Linked DNA regions of Homo sapiens. The protein of the gene in region 1 purifies or fractionates together with the protein of each later gene. This does not show direct contact. Each region holds a gene or a part of one and is shown in the gene's direction. Other genes may lie near its edges.

Evidence for each region.
Region 2: the proteins of SENP6 (region 1) and RNF146 purify together in Homo sapiens (affinity purification with western blotting; one study listed by BioGRID). This does not show direct contact.

Annotation. Positions count from the first base shown.
Region 1 is NC_000006.12:75,600,401-75,604,679, forward strand, and holds the start of SENP6 (sentrin-specific protease 6), read left to right. Parts: upstream 1-1,479; 5' UTR 1,480-2,124; coding exon 2,125-2,176; intron 2,177-4,279.
Region 2 is NC_000006.12:127,280,065-127,284,094, forward strand, and holds part of RNF146 (E3 ubiquitin-protein ligase RNF146), read left to right. Parts: intron 1-166; 5' UTR 167-274; coding exon 275-276; intron 277-451; exon of another isoform or gene 452-4,030. UniProt on the Homo sapiens protein: E3 ubiquitin-protein ligase that specifically binds poly-ADP-ribosylated (PARsylated) proteins and mediates their ubiquitination and subsequent degradation. May regulate many important biological processes, such as cell survival and DNA damage response.

The DNA of each region.
Region 1 (4,279 bases):
CCAAATGGAATCAAGCTGCTGAAAGTTTTTTTTTTTTTTTTTTTGAGACGGAGTTTCGCTCTTGTTGCCCAGGCTGGGGTGCAATGGCACGATCTCCGTTCATCGCAACCTCCGCCTCCCGGATTCAAGCGATTCTCCTGCCTCAGCCTCCTGAGTAGCTGAGATTACAGGCACGTGCCACGACGCCCAGCTAATTTTGTATTTTTAGTACAGACGGGGTTTCTCCATGTTGGTCAGGCTGATCTTGAACTCCTCCCGACCTCAGGTGATCCACCCGCCTCGGCCTCCCAAAGTGCTGGGATTACAGGCGTGAGCCACCGTGCCCGGCCTTAAAGATTTTTTTAAAACTACATGTTGAAGTCTGTACAAATGGCCAGTTACCCACATTTGCCTATTACCTACACTTCTCAGTATTATACTGTCATTGGCACAGACGATGTCATAGAACACCACAACAGGATCATGCAATAACCTCAGGCAACAAAAATAAATTACATTCATTACACTACTCTTGCCAATCAGGAAAGATTATTGGTTCGCATTAGGAAAAAGATTTTAAAGGACGTTTTAAACAATAAGCCTTTCCGCTTAGGCCTTCGTTAATAGCACAACTGAATTAGAACAGTCCATTCCCCAAAGACTGCACTTAATCATGTCGGTTTTCTGCATCATTTTAATTGCTGTTGACTTTTCATTGACATTTAGCATAGATTTTTGCTCATTTTTGTTTTTTAAAGAACGATACTGAAAGACAAGAAAAATGCTATCAGAGGACTACAAACCTACAGGAGTTGAGTTTCAGTCGTGAAACATTATAATCATTTTCTGTGCTTTCCATATTTCCTTGAATGAGAATGTATTATTTTTATAATAAGAGAAAATTTTTAAAGGAAAAGAAGTTAAAAAAAAAAAAGGCCTCACTTGTAAGGTAGGGTATGGTTTTTTCAAGTCTCAGGCACGTAAATGACAAGGGACTTTTTAAAAAACAAAAAAACACTGCCATTTAAAGCTGACTGGTAGGATCTTCCCTGCTAAATTATTTTGGAAACTTCTTTAAAAATAAATGTAGACCACGAATCATTTACTAAACATATGATTCCAGTACCTCACTACCTTTTCTCTTCGGTTGGCTGTAGTTTAAATTCTAAGGTCTCCTCAAGAAATGACATTTTCACATTTCTTAGGCATCTGTGGTGCCAGAGGAGCAAACCCATCGCACACGCCAGGTCTGCCATGGGGCCCTGGGCGGTGGGGATTTTGGATGTAACGTGTCTAGGCCGAGCCCGCGCCGTGAAAGGCCTACCCTGCCGAAAGCCCGGGCGGCGGGCGCCCACAAGTCAGGGCTCGGTGCGGCGCCGCAGCCAGCTCTGCCCGCGAGCCGAGTCCGGGCTGCTGAGGGGGAGCCGCGCTGGGGGCGGCGGCGTCGGGGCGGGGGCGGGAGCCGGGCGGCAGCTCCAGCGCCCGTGGGGGAGGAGCGGCAGCGGCGGCGGCTGGAGCTGCTGTGGCGACCGACGCGAGGCGGTGGCAGAGGAGACCCACCCCTGTCCACATGGACAGTCGCAAAGGCCTCCGCTGATGCATTCACGCCTGGGCGGGGTGGGCGGACGGCCGTAGCGGCGGCGGCTGCAGAACGAGCTAGGGGCCTGGGGGCGCCTGACGGTCGCAGAGACCTCGCCGCTCCGGCGCGGCGGGTGCGGCCATTTTACGGCCTGGGACGAAGGGAGGCGTGTTTGTGTGCTCGCTTTCATTCTCCTTTCTTGGGAACCCACGGCTGGGGGAAGTTTCTCAGGCAGCCTGGGTGGGCGGTGGATGGGGAGTCGTGGGCCGAGAGGAACCGGGCCCGGGAAGCGCCGTCGTCGTCGTCGCCGGTCGCGTTCCCCCGGAGAGGCCTGAGAAGCTCGGGCCGCGGGCCTCGCTGCCCGCCAGCCCGCGGACAGGCCCGGGCGCGCCTGGCCTGCCTTTGTATAGGCCCGTCTGAACGTGGGAGCGCAGCCCGCCTGACGGCTGAGCCCGAGGCCCGCAACCCTGCGGCGTCTACCCTCCTCCGGCGCGGCCCCTCATCCCGGCGAGCACGGCGGCGGTGTGGGCCATGGATTAAGAAGGAGGCGGCGTGGGAGGAGGAAGATGGCGGCCGGCAAGAGCGGCGGTAGCGCAGGGGAGATTACTTTTCTGGAAGGTACGTCTGTTTCTGCCCTTGACGGGGAGAAGGGAGGGTATACTGGAAAACGTGGCCCCCAGAACCCCGGATATTCAGTTATCTGCGCTGGGTGGGTTTCGGGGGCGGTGAAGTACGAGGGATGAGCGATGACGGGGAGGGAGTGTGCTGCGAGCGCACCTGGTTCGAGTCCGCCTAGGCGAGGGGCTCGGCTGCGAGCCGGTTCGGCCCAGGGGGCGCGGGTGGATTGAGCTACGAGCCAGAGTTGGTGGGCGTCCTTTGAGAGTGCGCGCTGAAGTCTTTGACATTTAAAAAATTTTGGGGTGGTGGCCTAAGGATGAGAGCAGCCAGCATTCACATCTTGTCTGGTGTTCATGAAAAGTTTCAAATTGCTAAGGTTGGGTGCAACTGGGGACCAATCTAAGTAGGGAGGGGACAGACAGTTTCATTGAGGTGTGTTTTATACCCTCTGGTCTGTTTCTCAGAGTTTCAGGCTTGCTTTTGCAGCCAGCCTTCAGATTAGGCCTGGCCTTGTCTGATATTCTTTCGGAATGTGTTTTTATAAAAATATTCTGTAAAATAATTTATCTGGAAAAAGAGTAAGGTTTACAGTGTCAATTTTGGGGCCGTAACTAAAGCTTATTGACACAATTTGAGTTTTACTCACTCGTGAGGGAAAGTTAAACATTTGCTGTAAGTAGACTAAGCCAGCCTCAAGAAAAGCTGTATGTTTTTGTTGGGGAAGGTGGTAATGGGGAACAATATTGATTTTTTTGGCCTATGAATATATAAGGACCCCCAAAATAGAGCTAAATGTTATTGTAATTGTAGCCCAAGAAGTGTTTATATTACTTAATTTGACTATGGGTTCAGTGTTTACACTTTGTTTAGCAAAATGAGTCTCTGCTGCTCAGAGACTCATTCTTCTTGTTAAAAAGAATTAACTACTCTTTGGATAATTTTGCAAAGATGATTTTCATTGCAATATGTCATAAGCTTTACTTCAAAAAATAACTTCTTTTAGTATGTTTCGGAAAGATTACTGAATCAAGAAAGTACAATTTAACTTAAAATTAAGAAAATCCCTAAACAGGTTCTATAGGAGGGTGTTGAGGAATGGGAATGCTTTGGTACTGCTTTGTTAACAGCACCTCGAACAGTGCCTGGAACACAGTAGGTACTCAGTGTTAGTCTAGTGAAAGAATAGTGAATAATAGAGGTAATTTTTCTTAATTCTTCTTACTTGAGTATAGTAAAGTGAAAAAAAAGTCTTACCGTACAAGCCAGCCTTTATCTAAAAGTGATGAGAACTTTACAGGAGATTTCCTAGTAAGAGTAAGAAAAGCTTCTGAGTTTTTCTGGGTTCGTTTCGTATTACCTCCATTCCAGTTTGCGGAATGGGTACCTGTCGAGGCTGAGAGGGTGCAGCTTGTGTTACAGGTAGTGCTATGTGTGTTGTTTTTGTTTTGAAATTGGAAACAAAAGATGGCTTACTCGTGCTTATTATCTTCAGTATGCAGATGATTATACTTTTGTGCTATCCTAGATTTCCAGCTTCTATAGGCCCGATTGAGTTAAAATTCTAATTGGATGAACATAGGGAGGATTAAAACAAGCACAAATAAAGCCACAGATGTAGAGTTAATGTGAGTTTCAAACTACTACTTTTACTTTATTCTAATCTAAGGGTCTTTGAATGTATAGGTATGATAAATTCGAGTTTCACCATGTCTTAAGCATTTTTATAAAGCAAGCAAACGGTAACTTCTTTAGAGCATAAGCATAAGGGTTCTGGGCACGGTGGCGGCACGCCCTTAATCACACACAGCATTTTGGAGGGCCGAGGCAGGCGGATCACTTGAGGCCAGGAATTGGTGACCAGCCTGGCCAACATGGCGAAACCCCACTCTACTAAAAATACAAAAATTAGCCGTGTGTGGTTGGCGCGCGCCTGTAGTCCCAGCTACTGCGGAGGCTGAGGCAGGAGAATCGCTTGGAAACGGGAGGCAGAGGTTGCAGTGATAGCGCCACTGCACTCCAGCCAGGGCAACTGAGCGAGATTCTGTCTCCAAAAAAAAAAAGCATAAGGAAAAGGAACAATTTTAGTTCCTCATAACCAATTTT
Region 2 (4,030 bases), about 52 Mb from region 1:
TGCTCTGCTAGAACTTACAGTCATGTTGAATAGCAGTGGTAAAAGCATGCATCTTGTCTTTAATTTTTCCCACTTTTAAGATAAAGTTTTCCACTGAATTTTTTGAAAGGATTATACATAATTAACTGATTCTCTTGATCTTAATTACTCTTTTTTTCTTTTGCAGCACAAAGAATGAACCAGCAGTGGAAGAGAAAATACTGTAAGCTGGCTGACTGCTGGTGAAGAAAATGCTTTATTTTTGTGGCAGGCATCTGTGGGATCTGTAATAGAAATGTAAGTGTAGCATCATGGTTTTTTTCAGTGCTGCAGTAAATTAAATGGATTGGTTTAACGTGTGGTAAATTGAGTATCTGTCATATGTAGTTTTAATTATATTAAATGAGCATTTTCTTTTGACTTATAGGTGCTTTATTAACAATTTATTTACATTAAGTTATCGTTAATGTAGATTTCCAAGTCTCCTCAAAAGGAAAAGTCTCTATAAGAAAAACTGAAGACACAGGAGTTTGCTCAAAGAATGCTGAAATAGATCTCCAGGTCCTCTGGGTTCTACCTTCTTTTTACATAATAATTTTCTTAAATAACTAAGCTAGGCAAGTAGTACTAGCTTTTGTAAATAAGACAGACTACTAGGTTATAAAAACTCTAGTTACTAAAAACTTGTTTCACTAAATTAAAGGAATTTCTACATAATTGATTTTTTTAATGTAATAATACATCACTGCATTTTATTCATATCACTTCACTCTGATCCCCAGTTTTACTAGTTGTGCTTTCATCATTTATCTTTGCATGATATGCTTTAAAGTGTTACACACTACCTTGGATTTGTCCATATTTAACTTCACCGTATTGATGAAACATTTTTCACTATGAATATATTTCTGTTTTCTAAATTCATATAAGCCCTATGCAACTTGATGTCATTCATGAAAAATGTAGTGAATATTTTATTGACTTTTAATTACAGTGTTTTTCTTATTAGAGCAAGAGTGACCTTGGTAGATGCTATTTCACATTTTCCCAGTTTGACATAAAACTCTTGCTTTCTACTCTTCCAGTATGATACTGGTTACATGTAATGATATGTATTAACAATAATTAATTTATTATTAAAAGTATGACCATATTATTTTTATTCAGTATTGAAAATTTGATAATTGAAAAATGATACTAATAAGCATTTGTCTTTAAAAATATATATTTTATTTAATCCTGTCCATTTATCTATCTGTATACATTTTTTAAAATCTTAATAGGTCAGATAGTCTAGGTGCTGGTCATCAAGGAACTTACTGTGATCCAGTAAATGAGACATGTATGTAATTAACAAACAGTGGAATAGATGCCATATTAAGGTAACAATCAGATGCTATTGAAACTGAACAGAGGAAGAGATTAATTTCATCTGAAGGGTTCAGAATGAACAGAATAAGTTTCACCTTGCCTTCAAAGAATGAGTAGAATTTTAACAGTCAAAGAAAATTAGGAAATATTTTTCAAGCCAAGGGAATGAGGAGGGAAACAGCTGCCTAATCATCAACACATTTTAGAGGAGTCAGGGAACAGTAATATGTGGGAAGGCAGGGTAGGAGAAAGAGACTTCAAAATAAGTGCAGGGAGTGAACATTTATTTAGTACTTACTATATTACCAGATTTTACATTTATTTAACATACAATCAATCTTAATTGATTTTGATACTTAGGGACAGAGTATATTGATCAGTCTTGGAGGAGTTAGGGGACAGTACTTACTAGATGTTGAGGGGTTAGCTTTGTAAACAAGTAGCAGTACCCCATATTGAGCCAGGAGGAATAATGATAAGACAGTAAAGGTAAAGATAGATTTTCAGGATTTATTTTTGACTTACCTAATTTCTCAGTGATACAGGTGTTAGTATATCGATAAACTAGGAGGGAGAAGTTTTATGATAGTCTCTGGGGAATAGGGAAAGAAAGATGTCTTGGCCGAGTAAAAGTTTACTGGGATTGATGGTGTTTAGGAAATCAAAATAGCTATTAAGTGTGTGGGGTTCACAACTTTTGCACCACACAAAAGTGAATTGTATGGTGAAATTTTTGTCACTTAGAGTAACTTGCTTGATTATTCTTTTTTGCGAATGTCTCCCTTGTTGGCTTTTGTGGTGGTGGTCTATCTTTATTTCCTGTTCTTCTCTGACCATTCCTTACACCCCTTCCTGGCTATTTTACCTCACAGATATTGGAGTAATTCAAGATTCTGTGGTTGGCCCTTTTGACTGCTCTCTCTACAGGTTTAATTTGGGCATTTACTCATTTTCATGGCTCCAAGGACCATGTATGTGTTGGTGAGTCACCAGACTTTTTTCAGCTCAGATTTATTCTTGGAGTATCAAACTAGTAAATTCAGCTGTCATCTACCTATCTCCACCTGGAGACCTTAATAAAGTCATTATGTCTGAGACAGAACTCTCCTCAAATTCTGAATTTTGGTGAATGTGTCACCATCCATCAGTAATCAAATGCTTTCATTTCTTTTTCCTTAGCATTCTTCTATTCTATTGTTGGAAACTTACATCAGCAACCTCCCTCTAATTATCTTATACTTGCATTACTACCTGGATATTCTAGTTTCCCTTTCGCCATACCTCCTCCTGCATTACCAAACTTTCCTCCAACCTGCTGTTCAAATGGTCTGGAAGCTACTAAACTGGCTGTTATTTCCTGACGTAAAACCTTTCAGTGAACTCCTCTTGTCTCATTAGTGGTTCATATGTGGACCAGCTTCATAGAAATCCTTAAGCCCCTTGAAATTATATGTAGGATTGTTCCCTTTTTGTGTGTCTGTAATTGGATTCTAAATTCAGACTTTAAAAATCTGATTTTTAATATTTGGAGTTTTTATTGCAAGCTAAAAATTTCTTGAATACTACACATACTAAAGATCTTTTTTGCTTATAATAATTTTGCCTTTCATTTGACTAGTTGTCCAAGAAGTTTCAAGGAAATCTGAGTTCTTGGAGATTTCCACTAACTCTGCCCATACCCCTCTATATTTTGTCTTCTTGAGAAGAAGACTTAGTATTAATAGACTCTTATTAGTCTGGCAGAAATATTTCACATGGTTTATCTATTGGAAGAAGGGGATTTATACTTAAAAGTTGGAATATCACATGAAGAATTCAGTAAAAACGTCTTTGAAAGTAAATGATGTATTATACTTATTAATAGAATTGGACTAACGTCACTCCAAATTTCTGTGTATTAAATTCTTAGTTTAGTAAACTGGAAATAAATTCCCTTTTTCAAAATTAGAATTTTCTGAGACATTTATGAGATAGGGAATACCTCTTTTGATTAGCATTAATACTTGCTCTACACAAAGGGAGGGGAAAAGCTTTCTTATTTACATATTGGTATGATCATCTGCATACATTTAGTCTCCCACCTATTTTAAGATCATTGGAACTGCAAAACAGAGACTGTGTAGGGTAGATTAAAATGGTTTTTTAAAAAGCCTTGAAGTATGTCTTATAGGTAGACTAGCAGTTTGGGGTTACTTTGTGTCTATCTTGTTACACATTTTATCTCTATCTTACTTATTGCATGTGCCTCATTCAGAATTAAATAAGAAATATCACTAAGTTTTTCTGCCCATTTGTTAGTTGGTGATAGACTAACAGTATACTTGATGGGCTAAACAGAATCAGAATTTATAAATTGCTATGGCAAATTGATAGTTAAGAGTGCTTCAGATGAAATAATGACCATTTAGCTGTCTGGTGTCCATTGTTTGCAGATTAACTTTGTCCAACTTCACTTCATTCTGATGATGGAACCAAAATACCTGCACAAACAGGATTGTTTTGCCTTTCCAATTATGTTATTATAATTCATGCCTTCTCCTGGGATGATTGTAATTGCTTTCTTAGTTTTGAAATTATGTGTTTTGGTTTATTCATAAATGCAAGAGTAAGAGTCATGCAAAATATTAATCATATTAAGTAGGGTGGAGGATAATGTTTTTAGGTTGGAAACTTTTTTTTC